Regions from separate parts of the Homo sapiens genome. Here region 2 is linked to region 1. The links come from fine-mapping of genetic effects on gene expression. A gene starts in region 1. The other region holds a variant in brackets. All regions are shown on one strand. Distances are from middle to middle.

Region 1 (10,215 bases):
ATATCTATTATGTTGGGTTTTTTCTCCCTTTTTTATTCCACACTAGAACTTCATCATAGGGTGTCAGGTTCTGCCCCTCTCATACCCTTTCCAGATGGATTTGATTTTGTGAATATACTAAAAATGCTTAATTGTATGCTATTGGTGAATTGTATTATGTGAATTATATCTTAATATAATTGTTATTTTAAAAAAGTTAGCAATTTGTCATTTCTTATAAAAATGAAATTAAAACAAATTTGAAATTATGCTGCTAAAGTGATTACACTCTTTTTTTCCTCTCATTAGGATCCTATTGTTAACTTTGAACTTCCAATTCATTTGGAGAAGTGGTTTCCTCGTCATGTAATAAAGACCAAACGGGAAGATATTCGAGAGCTCATCTTGAAACTTCATTTACAGCAACAGAAGGGCAGCAGTAGCTAGTTAATCTGTACAAACATGACACAGATGTTCTCTAAGATTACTGGAAAGCCTCTTACCAGCATTTGTGTTAGCCAGCTCACAGAGAAGAAAATAACTTGCAGTAGTTTTATAATAAGTCATTGGAACATTATTTAAAATATGTAGGACACATTATTAGAATTGTTGGGATCTCATAGATGGAATGGGAATGGGGGTGATATAGATAAACTTACTAGATATAAATTAAAATTTTATAAATATTTCATATTTTTCTGAGTAAATATGATTGGATTATGCAACAGCATATGTAATATGGGAATGTTTTGTAGATAATAAAACTTACATGATCTGTACTTCCACGTGACTGGGTGCTGAGGGGAGTTAAAGCCTCCCTGGTGCCAGCCCCAGTGCTTGTCAAATTTGCTGACAGGTCACATCATATTGTAATTCTATTCTTTGCAGCTCAAGCATGCAGTATGAATACTGTGTATTTTTTAAAAAAATAATTTAGTATCAAGGCTTCAGAAAATGCCATTTACGGCATCCCTTCTGTATGTAACAAAAAGACATTCATAATGTTAGGAAGATGATAAAAATTCGCTCTTTTAAAGTGCAGCTTATTATTCTCAATTGCTAAATACGATTACTCTGCTTTTTTTTTTTCATTTCTTTTGATGTCATATGTGAGTATCTTATAATTTAGTTCATTTGTTCAGGGTAAAATTTGAAACAAAAAATTTTACCTGTGCAAAATAGTTTTTTAAAAATTATACATGTAGCTCAACTTGAGGTACTGCTATATAAATATTCACTCACATTATCACGGAATTTATGTATAGTTTCTCTAATATAGAAGATAAAATTGGTGTCCTCATAACTTTAACAAAGAAAACCCTCAGTCCTATTTATTAATGGGTAGAATTAAATATATAATTTTATAGCTCAGTTTACCCAGTATTCATCTGCAAAGCCAGATTGCTCTCATTGCTTTTATATTTTTAAATTGTAGCTTTTAGAGACCTATGATCCTCATGGAACTTAATTTTTTATTAAATATTCAGGTAACAGTTCTGAATTCATGTGATAATGGTGGCATTATATATGATTAAACACTTCAGAACTTTCTAATGTTATCAGGAGTATTTTGAGGGAGATATGATTATATTGTATTTTCTCAGATAAGAAAAATGTTTTTTAACAATATTATTTTAATCTGTTTTAAGCATCTCTTAGATTTACATTATAACTACATAAAGCAGTGAAGCAAAGGCAAATTAAGATAAAGCTAGAAAGTCTGAACATTTTATTTCAAAATCATACGAATCGGGGTCAGTTAAGCCTCAGTATTCTTAGCTTTTGTTGATTTTGGCACTATCTTTATATTATTAAATATATTTGTTGTTTGGATATTTCATATAAAGATGGCTATAATTACATATTTCATTCCCAATTTGTGTGTGTTGGGGGGTACTTTTAAAGGTGACTATTGTTTTGTACATCTAATTTTGGGAAAGCAAGTCTATAAGACATCTTGTGATTTCTTAATGTTTTTGTTTGTATGTTTTTCAAAGATATCACTGTCCTTTATCATGTTTTGAAGATTGTTTAAAATTCATTTTCCTAAATTAATGTGCAAGTAATGTTTTGAGGATATCAGTGTTTTATATTAAACATATTTCCAATTCATTAAATTGAGGTGTAATTTTTTTCCTTAAGAAACATGAGCTACTGTTAGAAATAAATTTCCAGTTGTATGCTGCTCTGTGTATATCATGAAATTGATGCTTATATTAATTATTCTTCATATTTTAAAAGCATATAGTTTATTTGAGTGTCATTTCAGTTCAGGGAAATTATTTTAGCTTCTACTACTAGCAGGCATTTTGCTAGGCACAAAAAATGAATGATATTTGTTCCTGAGTCATTTATGGACATGTGAACATTTTAAATATTTTCTGGTAAGAACAACCATAGAGTTTCTTTGGGAATGCAGGAGGGAGCTCAGCCTAGAGGGGTGTGTGTGTGTGTGTGTGTGTGTGTGTGTGTGTGTGTGTGTGTATGTTAGTGAGGAGGTAGAGAGGTAGAGAGAGGGTTGTTAGTGAACAAAGCAAGCCTTCCTAGAGAAGATAATATTATTTTAATTTCACAGCTCTTGGGATGTTAAAAAAAGAAGTTATTTAAATCATATCCAATCACCTAATTAGGAGTTTAAAAAAGTTTAATACCTTTTGAAATCAACTTTTTTATGCCAAGAGGAAAAATAGGTTTAGACTTGGCCTATAGAGCCCATCCTTAATCTTGTTCCAGCCTATATCCTATTCTTATCTTTCCATTGTCCTCTACTTTTGCAGTTGTATAAAATTATTCGTTCATGTATTTAGGTACTTCCTCTGCGGTCTCTTGTAACTAAACTTGTCCTTGTGGAAATTTGGAAACTGCCCATGCGTTGTTAAGAGGCATAGTTCTGTGTGTATGAGGCTTCTGTCTGCTTCTGTGGCCTGCTCCCACCCAGGTGGTCTCTTCTGTTACAACTTAGTGCATCCTTCTTGGGGGCTGGAGAAATCAGGGCTCTTATAAAGATTCCAGATGAAGATGTACTTCACTTGAAATTATTATTATAACACTGTTTGCTGTGCCATATTTTTCTACAAAGTAAGCCTGGAGCCACATTTTGGACTGTTGTCCCATGAGTGTGAATATCACTTTGAACCCAAGACTATAGATGCTTGTGTGGAGTGGGGGTTGTGACATTGTACCTCCATACCTTTTCACCACTTCTTGTGAACTTTATTTTTTCAAAGTTGAATGTAAATGTTACCACCCCTACACCTACTCAAACAATAGTTCATTCCCCCTCCTGCTCCCCTATAGCAATTTGTATATACTTCTCTAATTACTGTTTTATATTATTTGTATACACGTTTTTCTCCTTAGACTGTAAGCTCCTCAAAGACTGGAAGCATTTTTCCATTTCTGATATTAAGTATCTTACTAGCATATAGTAAACACTCAGAAAATTTTGTTGAGTCAATAAATGATCCTTGACTTATTTGTAATTAAGTTTAGATGAAGGAATCTGTATTTGTTGTCTCTAAAGCACAGAGTTTTATGTTTAGTTTCTCATATGCTTATGATTCTGGGACATTTCTTGAAGCATAAAAAGATTCAAGGACCATCCTATGAGATTGTGAAATATTACCTAAAAAGAATCTCCTTAAATAAAAACTCAAAGAATATACTTTTTTGAGTAATTAAACATTAGAGAGACAATGTTTCATCTGTAGGTAAAAATCCAAAATTCTTGCTAAAACTTTGAAGGTATTCCATAATCAATCTCAACTTTTCAGCCTTCATTCCCAACGTATTTGCTGTATGCTCCTATCTTGCGTGCTCCAGCAAATATCTTCCTATTTTCTTTATAAACAGTATACTTTTCCACTTTATTGATCACGACGAGGGATTTCTCTCCTAACTCTTAGTTCTTCCCACTAACAATCCTTACTTCTGCCCACTAAAATACTGAAATGCCAAGTAGGCCATTCAAGGCGCAGCTGAAATACCCGCCTCCTGCTTCCCCCACACCCTCTTGCTTTTTCTAGTTGGAGTTACTCTTGCTTTTGGATTCCTATGACACAAACTTAATAGCGGGCATCACCTGCTTTGTATCATAGATACAAAGTTACAGTTAAAAGTTACAAATAAATGTCAAGTTAAATTGAATTTGTAAAATGATGACCATATTTAGAAACAAATGAACCCATCTAATTTCTTATATTTCTTTTTTTAAAGTACAGGTTTCTGAAATTATACCAACTATATTTTATAGAACATAATATAATAAATGTTTAAGAAGTTTTTATGTGAATTCTCTGTTTGAAATATAAGTTAATGGAAAATTTATTTTGGAGCTTGAGCAAAATAGAATTTCAAAGCTTGAAACATGTTTGGACTCTGTGAACACTTGTAATACAAAACAATTCCTATTTACAAAGTTTACTGGTAATACAAATACAGTAGTTTACAGAGAACTTTCATGTCTCTTAATTCTTAACAACGACCCTGTGATACAGGTAGAGATTATCACATGTAATTTCTTTGGTGAGTAAACCGGCTCAAAGAGCTTAGGTTATTTACCAAAATCAAATATTAAGTGATAAAACCAAGATTTGAGTCCAGGGTTTCTCAATCTAAATACAGGAATCTTTCTAGATTACTATGATTCTCAGAAGTTTTTTTTAGCTTTTTGGTCAAGGCTGTCAAAAAGAATAATTGCCAACTAATATTTGTTACCTAAGAGTTGTCCCTTGTTCTGAATTGTCAATATGAAGCTTTTCTTAAGATTAAACTTTGACTCAGCTAATAAAATTTTCGGCTTTTTTCTCCTACTCATACAATAAATTTGGCAAGTAAGTTTCTTATAAGCTTACCAGTATTTTGCAAATACAACTATGCAAATATATTTAATGGTCATTTAGGTTTATTAGCTTTTATAAAGGCTGAAAATGTGGTTTATTTGAGGCTGTATTGAAAAAATATACTTGAGCTTTTCCTAAAGCATAAAATAACATTGAGGGTGATTTAGCTAACACAATTAGTCAAGGATTCTCAAGAGGAATGTGGTTTAGATCTTTACAATACACTTTTTTTCAGAGAATTTTGCCAGAGATAACATGAAATAAAATATAATTTCATTGCTATTTGATAGTAAATCCAAGCTTCCACAGGGATTCTGATGAATTGCTTTCTACTAGGTTTACTTGATTTAAAAAACTGTTCTAATATAGAGAATTTCATCTGCAGGGAAAATGTTTTCTTGGTTAAGAGTTCCTCATGTAGATAAACACACTGGGCCTCACATTTAATGGCAAATTAAGCAACAAAGTTATCGCACAGCTATCATTTATATTAAGTGCTTAATATGTTCCGGGCACTACTCTAAGCAAAGTGAAGATTGAATTAGTTAATTAGTTAATTTAATCCTCACATTAGCTCTACCATGAGTTTACTATTTCTATTCCATTTTATACGTAAGGAAGGAGACAAAGTAAGTGATTTTTCTATCAAGGAAGGAAATTTGCAAGAGAATAGTTTCATTACAAAAACTAAATTTGTACGTAGCTCTGTATTATTGAAATAGGTAGATATAGTCAGTCTGGACTTTTTATGCTTATACATCTTAGTCCCTAGGAAAACCCAGAACTAACAGATTCAGAAAAGTTGGAAAAATCAGTGAATTATATGTGAAACACATTATTCTTAGTGGACTGCTTGTTAAAGGCAAGGAGAGTGTTAGTAAAGAGCTTAGGTAGATTAGAATAAAGAAATTGTCTCTCTCCATCTGCTCTAATTAGCTTATCTCACCAGCTTTTATAGCATGCTGGTTATTTCAGAAAAGAAGTGAGAGCTACTTTGAAAGGACAACCATTTTTCTTTCCGCTAATTTATAATGGTTTTGAAGTGGTTGTTCATTCTCAAACATAGACTTTTAAATGTTAGGTCTTTCCTATAACTCTTTGTTATTGGAAGTTTCAAGGATTTGGACACTCAATTAAGGATTCTGTCCTCTCCTCATTCCTTTGGTTTTGGCCCAAATGATTATGTTTCCTCTTTTTGGGAAGATTTCTCTGGGTATTTTGATATTTGTCCTGATAGAAGGAGACTTTCCATCATTAACAGGTATTTAAAAATCTACATTTGTTTTTATCTTTCCATATCTGTAGTATATGTTCTTCAAAAATAGGATTATTTGATGTGATTGCTGTAAGAAATGGAATCAAATACTACTTTATTAATCTTTGATATGGCTTCATTTAAACCGTTTTAAAATATCTCCAATAATTTTGGTTTTCCCTCATTAGTAATTTCTGGTTTAAACCTTACTTTTATTTATTTTGTTGAAATTGGATGTGTATTTACTTGATTTTGATAACAATCTTGAATGAAAGGAGTGGGAGTTAAATGGAAAAAGATGGACTGCCTCACTCCTCTTTTCCTTAGATATGCATGCCTGCCTATGATTTGGGCACTGGCTTCTCTATCTTAATGTAGCCCAAGTGTCAGTTTTTCTTTAGTTGTTACCTTTTGTACTGTATCTTCATTATCGAAGACTTGACTATACTTTCACTCTGTAGCACAAACCTACTTATCTATAGAGGAGATCCAAGAACCCAAGAGTGCAGTTTCTTTTCTCCTGCCTGAAGAATCAACAGACCTTTCTCTAGCTACCAAAAAGAAACAGCCTCTGGACCGCAGAGAAACTGAAAGACAGTGGTTAATCAGAAGGCGGAGATCTATTCTGTTTCCTAATGGAGTGAAAATCTGCCCAGATGAAAGTGTTGCAGAGGCTGTGGCAAATCATGTGAAGTATTTTAAAGTCCGAGGTAAGCGAACATCCAAATCCTTCAGCTCCATAATGAAATTCAAACATAGTTTAATCATTTGTTAGGTAACATTGTAAATCAAAATTTACGATAATTTAGACAGGACTGAGCCAAAACTACCTTTCTACTGCTAAGAATATAGTGTTAATGGTAACTTCAGAGAACAGTTTACATTAAGAGAGGAGGTTTGTTTTTTTTCCAGTGCCCTCCAGTTAAGGCAATAATATCATTTAATAATGACATGCACTTTGAACCAAAGGAAGAACGCTTTCATGATTTGAGTTTGTAGCTTTTGGTGCGTTATGTAAGAAACTTTTTTCACATGAGGGCAGTCACAATAAGATGTCTTTCATTAATTTCAACAACATATTCAGAGAGGAAATGTCTTAAATCTTTTTAAGCACTTCAAAAATACCAGTTTATGTTTTGGGCTACATTAATTTTAATTTTTACTTCTTCATTACAGTAAATGCCTAAGTATACCCACAAAATAGCTTTACCAAAGTATACTCACCTGCTTGCCTATTTATTAATAGTTATTATATATACAAATATAATGTTTCTATATTTTATAGTTTAGATATTCTGCAGATTCACACAGGTTGCTCTCTAGTTGGTACACATAAAATTTTCACATCTAAAATGATGGCATTTCTCAAAATCTCACATTTTATTTTGTCTTTAAACAGTATTCTTGATCTCATACTTTTTATGTAAGTCAATTCTGTTTCTCATATATTTACTAAATTGCTTAATTGACCTTAGTATGTCCCTTAGACATTTGAAGGATTCCCAAACTTTGCTTTTTACTGCTCAAGAACCAATAAAAAGCCATAATATGGATGTGATGTTAGTAAACAAGGTGAAATTAGATGATGAAGTGATTGTAAAATGAGGCTTTTAAATTCATGCATTTATTCATTAATTCATTCAACAAATGTTTATTGAGCCCGAATTTTCCAGGCACTGGATTATATGAACCTTCTGTCTGAGCTGCTACTTTATCTTCTTTTCCTCTTCCTGTCCTTCCCTTCTTCCCTTCTCATCAAAGTTTTAAAAACACAATAAAAATTTAATATAATACCAGCTATTACACATATTTATATATTTGATATTTTTGTTAAAGTAGTACAATGTATATTGGCAGCTCTTTGTTATGAGTGTATTTCTATTTCTTGATTGTATTTGGGAGCTATCAAATATTACTATGCAATAAGCTTTCCTTTTACTTTTTAAATGGAGATCCACAGACCTGGCATTTTGAGTATAGGCCATATGCCAGAAATGGAAAATTCCAAAGACAGTGGGAAGAGAATAAAGGAACTGAAGGTGAATGAGGATGACAGTTAATAATTTATCAAGATTCGATTTCTACCACCTGGATTTTTACTTTATATTATTATTATTATTATTATTATTATTATTATTATTATTTATTACTATTTTTTGGGACATACTCACATTCTGTCGCCCAGGCTGGAGTGCAGTGGCATGATCTCGGCTCACTGCACCCTCCACCTCCTGGGTTCAAGTGATTCTCCTGCCTTAGCCTCCCAAGTAGCTGGGATTACAGGCACATGCCACCATGCCCAGCTAGTTTTTTTTGTTTTGTTTTTTTGTGTTTTTGGTAGAGATGGGGTCTCACCGTACTTTATATTATTTTAAAATAAGAATATCTTGGTATTTTGGGAACTGATTAAATAGTGAAGAGGAAATAACCAATCATGTAAGGGATTTGGTCATACCTTTTGATTGCTTTGCTCTTGTTTTTATAAATTCAAGAGATACTGTTGAAAAAGAAGCTGACAAAAATGAACATAAAGCATTCCTAGAATAATTGATTTTAAAATACAGATGCTATGAATAGGATCCTTGAAAAGGGATCTCATACAGCTAAGATGGTTGGCACACCACATCAAGATTATAGCTGAGATAGCTGTTATGGTCATGGTAAAGAATAAATATTTCATTTGTTTTTAAAAATTGACAGAAATGAGTATTTTAACATAGGTCTTGCTTGATTTTGAAGAGATAATTTGTATTATGCCCTTAACACCAAATGTTTGCAATTTAGAGGGAGGGAGTTATTCAATATCCAATTAAGGATCTTAGCTCTTTCTACCAAGCTAATTCAGTCTAATGGTTTGCTCAATTTTTCCTTCATAGAGAATTTGGTATCAATTGCTAGTTGTTGTAACAAATTTGAAAAGTGTTTCTAAGCAAGACACAACTATATTTAACCTAATGTTTTGTAAAATTAAACAGCATACTAGGATGCCCCTCTCTTTTTTAAAAAAAATATTCGTTGTTGGACTTTTTAAAATATAGCTTTATTGAGGTATATTTTAATGAAATACAGCCTGCATATATTTAAAGTATACCATTTCATTAGTTTTGACGAATTTACCCTTGAAACCATCATTATAGTTAAGATAATAAACCTATCAATCACTCTTAAACATTTCTTCATGACCATTTATAATGCCCACCTCCCTCACTACCTCTCCTTACCCCAATACTGAGGCAACCATGAATTTGCTTTCTATCGCTATGTATTAGTTTGCATTTTCTATACTTTTATATATAAATGGAATATACTCTTTGGTATATACTCTTTTTTTGGTCTGGTTTCTTTTACTCAGTGTAATTATTTTGAAATTTATGCATGTGTTTTGTGTATCAATAGTTTGTTAGCTTTTATTGTTGGGTAGTATTCTATATTACGGATATACCACAATATGGGATATTTGGGTTGTTTTTAGTTATTACTGATTACAAGAAAAGAAATTATGGTCATTTGGGTACAAGTTTTTCTGTGAACATATTTTCATTTCTATTGAGTAATAATAGTGGAACGTCTGGGTCACGTGATAGGTATACGTTTAACTTTCCAGTAAATTGTCAAGTTTTCCAATATGACTGTATCACCAACAGTGTAGTAGGATTCCGTTTTCTTCACATCCTCTCAACACTTGGTATAGTTGGTCTTTTTTAACTTTAGCCATTCCAGTGGATGTATATCTTATTGTGGTATTAATTTGCATTTTCCTAACCACTTATGACTAACAATTTTGAGCATTTTTTTTACATAATTATCTGTCATTTATATATCTTTTTTTAGTGAGGAGTCTATTTGAATATTTTGCCCATTAAAAAATGGGTTGCTTGTCTATTATTGAGTTGTAATAGTTCTTAATGTGTTCTAAATTTAAGTTCTTTGTCAAACATATATTTTGCATACATTTTTCTTGCAATCTGTAGCTTGCCTTTTCTATTTTCTTGATGATGTATTTTAAGGAGCAGAAGTTTTAACATTTGATAAAGTCAAATTTATCAGGCTTTTTGGGGGAGCATCCTTTTAGTTTTTGATCTTAGTTTGCTAACCCAAGATCACAAAGTTTTTTCTTTCTCAGTCTTTTCCTGTAGAATT
Region 2 (10,215 bases), 37 kb after region 1:
TGTAAGCTCTACATTAACTAGCACCAAGCGTGTATGTAGTATAATCTTAATATGTACAGTTTATATTGCTTTGGTTGACTTTGTTTAACCAATCAGACCAATATCAAAACATACTTGTGTTCGTAGTGTAGCATATGTGCACACACACCCATACATAGAGAGAGGGAAGAGAAATCAATTCGAAAGGATGACTTAAAAAATTTAGCTGTTATTTTAGATATTAAGGATACATGTGTAGGATTGTTACATGGGTATATTGGACCCAGGTAGTGAGCATAGTACCCAATATGTAGTTTTTCAACCCACACCTACCCGCCTTCTAGTAGTCCACAGTGTCTATTGTTCCTATGTTTATATCCATATATGCTCAATGTTTACCTCTCACTTATAAGTGAGAACATGCAGTATTTGGCTTTCTGTTCCTACATTAATTCACTTAGGATTATGGCCTCCAATTCCATCCAAGTTGCTGCAAAGGACATGAGTTCATTCTTTTTCATCGCTGCATAGTATTCCATGGTGTATATGTACCATATTTTCTTCATCCAATCCACCATTGATGGGCACCTCGATTGATTCCATGTTTTTGCTGTTATGAATAGCTAATGATGAACATATGAGTGCATGTGGCTTTTTGATATAATGATATGGGATTGCTGGTTTGAATGGTAGCTCTGTTTTAAGTTCTTTGAGAAATCTCCAAACTGCTTTCACAGTGGCTGAACTAATTTACATTCCTACTAATAGTATATAAGCATTTCTTTTTCTCTGCAACCTCATCAACATCTGTTATTTTCTCACTTTTTAGTAGCCATTCTGACTGGTGTGAGATGGTATTTCATTGTAGTTTTGATTTGCATTTCCCTGAGTGTTACTGATGCTGAGCATTTTTTCATATATTGACCTCATGTATGTCTTCTTTTGAGAAGTGTCTTTTCCTTTGCCTACTTTTTAATGGGGTTATTTGCTTTTTGCTGGTTGAATTGTTTAAATTCCCTATAGATTCTTGATATTAGACCTTTGTCAGATGCCTAGTTTGTGAATATTTTCTCCCATTCTGTAGGTTGTCTGTTTAGTATGTTGATAGTTTATTTTGCTGTGCAAAAGCTCTTTAGTTTAATGAAGTCCCACTTGTCAATTTTTGTTTTTGTTGCAATTGCTTTTGGGGGCTTGGCCATAAATTCTTTGCCAAGGCCAATGTTGAAAAAGATATTTTCTAAGTTTTCTTCTAGAATTTTTATAGTTTGAGGTCTTACATTTAAATATTTAATCAATTTTTAGTTAATTTTGGTATATGATAAAAGGTAGGGTTCCAGTTTTTTTTATTCTACATATGGCTAGCCAGTTATCCCAGCAGCATTTATTGAATGGGAAGTCCTTTCCCCATTGTTCATTTTTGTCAGACTTGTTGAAGATCAGTTGGTTGTAGATGTGAAGCTTTATTTCTGAGTTTTCTATCCTGTTCCATTGGTCTATTTGTCTGTTTTTGTACCAGTACCATTCTGTTTTGGTTACTGTAGCCTTATAGTGTGGTTGGAAGTTGGATAGTGTGATGCCTCTGGCTTTGTTCTTTTTGCTTAGGATACTTTGGCTATTCAGGCTCTTTTTTGGTTCCACATGAATTTTAAAGTAGCTTTTTCTAATTCTGTGAAGAATGACATTGCTAGTATGATAGGAATAGCATTGAATCTGTAAATTGCTTTGGGCAGTATGGTCATTTTAATGACATTGATTCTTCCAATCCATGAGCATGAGACTCTTTTGATTGATTCAGCTTTGGGTGTGGCCAAGGTTGCCACACTGTAAATTTTGCAAAGGCTATGTTTCCATATTAATTAATCATGGTTACAAGCTAAGTACATTTTGTTCCAATAGATTCTGTGTTACTATACCCTGACAGTAACACAATATTCCTGAAAACCTAACTTCAGACCTTACTGGATTTCATCATTCAAAGAGGAAAAATTTAGATCTGTGCTTTTTTCCTGCTAAGAGATTTATTTCTTGCATAATGTATCAACTAATAAATACCTGATCACAGTGCACCTCATTCACAACTACTAGGAGGTGATTAGAGAAGGAGGGGAAATGAATGAAAGTCTGTTAATTGGCTAAAGCATAATGGGTTTTCTCTGGAGCTGCCCCAAATTGATCATCTCATTCATTTCCTTGGGTTCTCCTGCCTGCTGATTCAAACTGTCCCATCTTTCTGTGCATCAGCTGGAAACAAACACCTTCATTCTCTCCTTCACCATCCCAACTCCCAAGAGGAATTTTTACAGAGAAGGTAGAATGATTCTGCTCATGTGAAGAGAAGGTTTTCCATCATGAGAACTAGCCTATAATGCAGCACATGCCATCGGAAGCTAGACTGGTAATGCGAGGCATATATAGTGTGAGTACATATATCTACAAATGTTGAGGCAGTATAATTTCCAAGCATTCAAAGTACTGATATGCACTTGAATGTTAAAACATCATAAAGATGCCAAGGGGAAGAGAGATGAGACTTTTTCTTCATTATCTTGTCATAGAATTAGGCTGGTAGACTTCATGGTAGACCACTATAAGAGGTAGACCATAATTTATTTTTCTAGATTGGATATTGAAGCATGCCATTTCACTGTAAATCTGGGCCTAATAACTAAAAATACTAACATATCAGCAGTTACTTAGAATATTGTAAAAAGCTTCTTACTCACAAGAATGGACAATGATATTTGCCCTTTTAAATGTTTTAGAATAACCATACTCAATAATCACCTAATTAGAGTCATTTTAATAAAATTAAAAATATTAGCTAATACTAATGTATTAGTTATAGGCCAGACATTGTTCTAGGTACTTTATTACTTGTATTAATTTACTTAATCCTCTGAACAATATAATGAGGTAGGTATTAATATTATCCTTCTCTTAAAGAGAAGGAAATTATGGCGTAGAGAATTTAAGGGACTTGTCCAAGGTCACAAAGCCAGTATTCAACCCCTATGCTATAATGCATATGTATTTAAATTATTAGGATATTTTACATCATTCAGAGATTAAAAAATCAGTTTTCTTTGTTGTACATATATGTGTGTGAATGAGAAAGACAAACATGAAGAATGAAAAGAAGTATTTAAATGGTTTCTATAATTTACATACTAAAAGCCCAGACTTCATCACTACACCATGTATCCATGTTACAAAATGGCACTTGTACCCCGTAAATCTACCAAAATTTATAAAAATTTAAAATTAAAAATGATATAATGAACTTTTCTGTAGATATTTGTACCAATTTCAAAATCATATCTGCTGAAATTCAAAGGCACTAACTTCAAATGAAGAAAGATTTAGAAAGTAACTACTTTATATTAGACAGACTTCTCCATGATAATGTTTCTCAAACCATCAGTTGTCAGCATATTGAATACGTACCATGTGGCCTGGCTGTGAGTCCATGCAATAAGGCAGTATATGAGAGAGACAGAGCTGTAGACAGGAGAGATATTGAAATTTTAGTGTTTCTCTTATCAACAACTTGTGCTAAATCTTGGTTGTTTCACTTTAAATAAAAATACCTGTTTCTCAGGCTTTAGGAAAACATCAAATGATCAAGAATAGGATTCCTAGAAGAGCAGGAAGTCTATGTCTTTCTGTGTCTGTAGCACATTCAGTGAGAGTAGGGGCAGAATGTACTGATCCCTGTGTGTCTTTCTGTCAGGGATGTGGCCTAGCGCAGCATTATCCTTTTGGTGCACACTGGCAGTACTCTTGGGGCAAAGATGGACCAGTAGAGGAATGGATAGTGGTGTTACTCCCTGACCTCTTATGAGATGACATATCTCCAACCCTACCATCATCCCTTACACATCTGCATTTATAGACATATAGAGCTTTACATTTTAACAAGATTTTTTACATTTAATTGTCACAATTACCCTATGAAATTTTTACAGGATGAAATTCTCTGAGTTCACAAAACTTAATGAGACTTGTTTACAATTCCAGTCGTTAAGTGACAGAAAAATGGAGCTATCAAATTAGTTAACAGTCTCTGGGACATTCTAGCAATGTCAGCAAAAGGAAAGTTAACTAATTTGATGGTTGTGGTTTATTAGAAAGCAAGAATTCAGTAATGGTTCTATTTTTTTTACAGTTTTGTTTCTTTAAAAAAAAGGTTAAATTATGAAATATCTCAGACATAGAGACAAATATTAAGCCTACTCTGACTCTGGCCCTCTCAAACTTGTGCTGCAGGAGATGATGGTAACTACAGTAAGCAGATGGCATTGGAAGTGCATTGAAATCCTGTGTGCACAGCTAGGACAAGGAATATTACTTCTTTTAGAAACTGCTAGGCACAGATTTTGAGTCTGTCCTAAATATACATGAATTTGTTTGTTTAATACCTACTAAGGATATTTATGCATTCTCCTTTTGCCATTCAAATGATTTTGTTTTTTTTTGTTGTTCATATTGATAAATAAATCTTGATTTAGTTTCTTGAATTGAATATTAGAATTTGTTTACCAATAAAAATATTGATTCATTGGATTCATTAAAACAATGAGTCTCTTTTACTGGAAAGTTCTCTACTCTCTGGGAAGGTTTACTAAGAAGAGCACTGGACTGGGCATCAAGAGACTTTTTCTTTTTGCCTCTACCTGGCTACTTTGATTTTGGATAAATGACTCAAACAATCTGATGCAATGTTTTTTATCTATAAACTGAGAAGATGGAAGACAACTCATTTATGATGACATCTCTATGTGAATGTCAAGTAGACATTTCAAACTCAACACATCCACAACTGAACTCCTGGTTCTCCCATGCCCCCAACCCAATTAACTCTGCATTTCTATTGGTGACAACTTTATTGTGTCTGTCATGCAGACCAAAACTTTGTGATCATGCTTTATATTTCCGTTTCTCCCACACCTCACATCCAATCCATCAAGAAATTCTGTTGCCTGTAGATTCAAAATATATCTCGAATCTGATCACTTTTCACCATCTTCACTGCCACCACCCTGGTATGAGCCACCAGCATCTTTTATTCTTATAATAGCTTCTTAACATGTCTAACCCTTTCCCAACTACAGTACATTTTCAACACAGCAGCCAGAGTTATTTTT[TA/A]TTTTTCTTATTAGTCTATATATTCGTCAGCTAAGGGGATTTTAACATTTGCTTAGAACAGTGTTTATCAAACTTTTCTCCCAAAGTCCTCAATGGCAGAAAATATGGGCAGTATAGCTCAGAGTTTTTTGTTTTGTTTTGTTTTTGCAAATCCAAACTTCCTTTTCTTAAGACTTCATGCACTCTTTTGTATTTTGCTATGTAGTATATCAGTATGTATAAATTTTATATAAATTGATTTATTTCCTCAAATATCACACAAAATGGAAGCTTTGGAAATGGAGCCAAGTCTACTCTGTGGCTTCTGGCCATCTACTGTATACTCTGTATATATGTACCATGTTGGAAAGAGTCTTAGAACAAACAAATTTATGGGGTTTATTCAAAAACTTTCTATGAAAACAAAACACCTTCATCATATAGTTAGTTCTACTATAACATGATATATTATTTCCTAAAAATTGTTGAAAATCACTCAATAAAAACTACAGGGGCAATGGGAATAATAAAGTTGGGGCACAATACCCAAAAACTTTGTCAACAATACATTTTTTAAAAAAAGGAAACTAGTGGCTGGCATGGTGGCTCAACGCCTGTAATCCCAGCACTTTGGGAGGCTGAGGCAGGCAGATTACTTGAAATCAGGAGTTCAAGACCAGCCTGGCCAACATGGTGAAATCCCGTCTCTACAAAAATACAAAAAAAATTAGCCAGGCATGGTGGCGTGCACCTGTAATCCTGACTGCTCGGGAGGCTAAGGCAGGAGAATAGCTTGAACCTGAGAGGCAGAGGTTGCAGTGAGCCGAGATTGCGCCACTGCACTCCAGCCTGGGCAACAACAGAGTGAGACTCCATCTCAAAAACAAACAAAAAGTAAACTAATAAAAATGGTGGCACAGTTTACATGTCCCATGTGGTTAAGAAATACACAAATACCATAATAAATATGTCACTTAACCTTGATGAATTTCTGACATTTGTTCGTAAAATTGGACACTGGAAAGATTGTAGCTTATAAATTATTGTAAAGTGATGGAAGGAGAGTTATGTGAAGAAGGACAGAAAGTTGTAACACTATACGAGGGTAGGTGTGGTTCATAACTCATGGGTGAACTAAGGTAGCTGGAAGATGTCTGAAGTGTTGGGCATGAGAGTGCTTGGTGTATTCCTACATGGTCTCTATTCATCTGGGTGGTTTTGTTTGTTCATCTAGTGTTTCTCACAATGAAATTGGGTATAGGTAAAGGAGAAATCTGTATTATGCTCAACTGTTTCTTAATATATTAATCATGTTGAAACAAATTTACAAATAAATAGCATAGCAGAACTGACTGTATGTATCATGTATCTCTATTGATAAGTCACTGCCTGTACTAGGTATAAATAATAGAGGATACAAGATATTCACTATTCTTAGAAAATAAGGCATATAAAGAAATAACAATACATAACTAAAATATAAGTTAATTTTGAAAATTTAAAAATTTGTATTCTGCCTGAAACTAGGGCAGATGAGGTTGAAGTGGGGTGGAGACTGCCGACTGTGGGAGATGCTGAAGGGGATGACATGGGGCTAGCTCACACTGGGAGTGATACCATAGGAGTGGCCTAAGAATTTACTCAGCCTATCTTTCTCCGCTTGAATATTACCATCATCCATTAAAACCCTTATTTGCCCACGATTTCCATGGACCACAAAGCCAAATATATATTTTTTTCAGCAAATATTTTATTCTCTTTGGGATGACATGTGTCACTACTCCATTAACTCCCATTTCCACTATTCAAATTTATTTTTATAAATTTTTTGAGATTATTTTTGTATTCTCTGTGTAAAGAGATTCTTGTATTAGTTTTCTACTGCTGCTTTAACTAATTAGTCTGACCTTGGCAGCTTAAAACAACATAGATTATCTTATAGTTCTGCAGTTCAAAAGCCTCCTTTGGGTCTCAAAGTATCAGCATGGCTATGTTCCTTTTTAGAAGCTGTAGGGGAGAATCTGTTTTCTTGCCTTTTCTAGCTTCTACAGACCACCCACATTTCTTGGCTCATGGCCCACTTCCATCTTCAAAGACAGCAATGGCCGGTGGAGTCTCTCTCACATTCCGTCACTCTGACTTTCTTCTGTCTCTCTCTTCCACATGAAAGGGTCCCTGTGATTACATGGAGCCTACTGGATAACCCAGCATACTCTGCCTATTTTAAGATCTGCCGATTAGCAAGCTTAATTCTACTTGCAACCTTAATTCCCCTCTCTGGGAATTAAGATATGGCCCTCTTTGGGAGGCTAGTATTCTGCCAATCACAATTCTCTGTAATTTAAATTGCAGACCTCTATGCAAACTCTAATACATCTGCTAATGTATGTCTTGCACCAAATACTCTGCTATATCCTATTTTAAACATCTCCTGCTATCAGTTGCCAACTCTTAAAAAGAACATTTTCTGCCTGTATTCAGGACCTTAAATTCTGTCTTTCCTCTTAGAAACCTCTGCCTGTCATTGTTTCTCTCTTTCTCCTGAGTCTCCAACTTCCTTCTTTACTAACTCTTTCCCATTAGTATTTAAACATGCTGAAGTCCCTCTCATGTTACCTATTTTTAAAACAGCCCGCATTTATCTCCATTATAGCCAGACATCTTGAAAGAATGTCCACTTAGCTCCAATCACTCCTTAAACTCCTGCCATCTGGTTTTACGGTTACATCCCCAATAACGAGTGCAAGGCTCATCCTAGGATATGTGCTTACTAAATATTTGTTAAATTAATAACAGAATTTCTACCTAATCACCCAAGTCTATTATCAGGTCTCTGGTGATATTCTCAGTATAAGGACTGCTCTTTGGGATTGTGTGTGTGTGTGTCTCAATTAATTTACATTTGTAGTTGAGAATTGTAGTTGAGAATACCCATCATGGATCACTATATATATATAATTTTTTTTTTTTGCAACAGTCTCGCTCTGTCACCCAGGCTGGAGTGCAGTGGCCCGATCTCAGCCCACTGCAACCTCCACCTCTGACGTTCAAGCGATTCTCCTGCCTCAGCCTCCCGAGTAGCTGGGATTACAGGCATGTGCCACTATGCCCGGCTAATTTTTGTATGTTTTTTAGTAGAGATGGGGTTTCGCCATGTTGGCCAGGCTGGTTTCGAACTCCTGACCTCAGGTGATCCGTCCACCTCGGCCTCCCAAAGTGCTGTGATTACAGGCATGAGCCACTGTGCCTGGCCTATATATATATATTTTCAGCAAATGTTTTATTCTGTTTGGGATGATATATGTCACTGTCCCATTAACCCCTGTTTTATATTTGTTTAGCATTTCATACTTTTTCTGATGCTTCTGCATATAATATTTTATTTAATTTTTGTCAACACCTTCTTGAAATAGGCAGACGTGGAGGTGTTCTTGTTTTAAAGGGTAAGTTTTTGAGGCCCAGAGCAACTAAGGTATTTCCCTAAATCATACACAAAGTTAATGATACATCTAGGACTAGCACTCAGGTTTCTTAACTCCTTTCTTTGAGTTCTTTTGTGGTCACATGTGATTATAGTAACATATTCGAGAGCAAAGCAAAGTATAGAAGATATCAAGGGGAGCAGGAATCTGCATATGAACCTGTGCTTGGCTTGTTTTACAATGTCTTTAAATATATGTTCTATGTGGCTATGAGCAGCTGTTGACATGATCCCACCTGAATTCCATTGACATGATTAGGTAGTAGTGGTGAAGAATGAATAATGTGCTGGATGAAATGAGGAGAGGAGATAGTAAGGGGTTGTATGTTATTAGTATTAAGCTAAAGATCTTAGCTGAACAGCTTCAACTTTGTGGTTTGACTTAGAAATTAAGTAGTATTTCTCTTTCCAAGCTCAATACACCTCTGTGTTCCAGTGCTGTGGTGAGTGACATTTTAAAGGATCTCTGCAGGGGGAATACTTAATGAAAACATGTAAAAGGATTCTTGTTGTTAAGTGTTCTTTACTGTCTCTTGAAAGGAGAGTGGGTGGTTGAGGGATTAAGAGTTGGAGTGTAGGCAAGTGATTTAAATTACTAAGAGTTTCCTACTTATCACTATTAAAATAATGTTATTTTGAATTCAGCAAGGTGAAATCTAGTTCAACTGAAGTAAACTTCTCCATTCTGAATGTTTGCTTAGTTAGAGAATTAGCGTAAATTTGATTTGACGTCGGAGACAATTTAACTCACCCCAGGTGAAGTCCGGTTTCTCTGCTACCTCATTGCAACATCCTATTCGAGTTGCTGTGTTGTGCTTTCATACCTTTGCCTTATTGTGATCCTTATATCTGGTTGCTCTCCATAGAGCAACTCTAACCAGGTTCCCCTTCCTCTTTCTGGGACCTTACACACTGACTTTTAGGTCATTTAGTTTTTATAGGCCAGTATCATGAAGGCCAAGTGAAACCCTTCTAAAGAGTAGGGATCACATAAGGGCCATGTTGTGAAGCAGTGATTTGAGATGAGTAAGAATGAGGTTTCTGGCATCCAGTGGGCCTATTTTACATAACAGCTTCTCCATTGGCTTAGCTGTGTGACCCTGAGCAAATTCTTAACCTCTTCTAGCATTAGTTTCCTCATCAGTCTAAATGGGATCATAGGATCTCCTTCTTAAGGTGGTTGCCAGAATTAAGTTAGTTAACCTAAATAAAGCACTTAGCAGTGTATGACACATGATGAGGGCTCAGTAAAGTTAGTTGTAATTATTCTTGCTGTTATTATTGAAAGAGAACTGGATACAATTAGGAATTTTTGTGTGAGCCTGGGAAAGTTGCTTTACCTGTTTGGACCTTATTTCTTTCATCTATGAAATGAAGGTACTGGGAAGGAGTACTGCCATGTGGACAATTGATGGACCCTATTCAGGCCTGATTATGTTAATGTTTCTTCTGAATGCATCTGAATCCCATTTTTTTCAGCTCCATCCTCTGTAACCCAAGAAGCCTCTTAATGCTTCCTCATCACTCATGCTGTCCTCTGCTCATCAAAATAACTTGTCCAGATGTCATATCCCTTTAGGTTCTTCTAGATGAAACTTAATAAGCAATTTTATGCAAATGTGCTCTAAATA

Evidence for each region. PIP is the estimated chance that this variant, and not a neighbour inherited with it, causes the effect.
Region 2: its variant is fine-mapped to the expression of IMPG2 in esophagus muscle (GTEx, PIP above 0.99).

Annotation. Positions count from the first base shown.
Region 1 is chr3:101,316,154-101,326,368 of GRCh38, reverse strand. IMPG2 (interphotoreceptor matrix proteoglycan 2) reads left to right here and starts at 5,794. Exons shown (of 19, transcript NM_016247.4): 1 at 5,794-6,081; 2 at 6,537-6,785. The coding sequence starts at 5,997. It overlaps SENP7 (SUMO specific peptidase 7), which reads left to right. Exons shown (of 24, transcript NM_020654.5): 24 at 289-2,164. The coding sequence ends at 426.
Region 2 is chr3:101,278,805-101,289,019 of GRCh38, reverse strand. The region is part of intron 4 of IMPG2 (interphotoreceptor matrix proteoglycan 2); the gene reads left to right. Among named protein-coding and RNA genes, the nearest start is that of IMPG2, 37 kb to the left of the region's middle. The variant TA/A (reference allele first, on the strand shown) is at 5,124.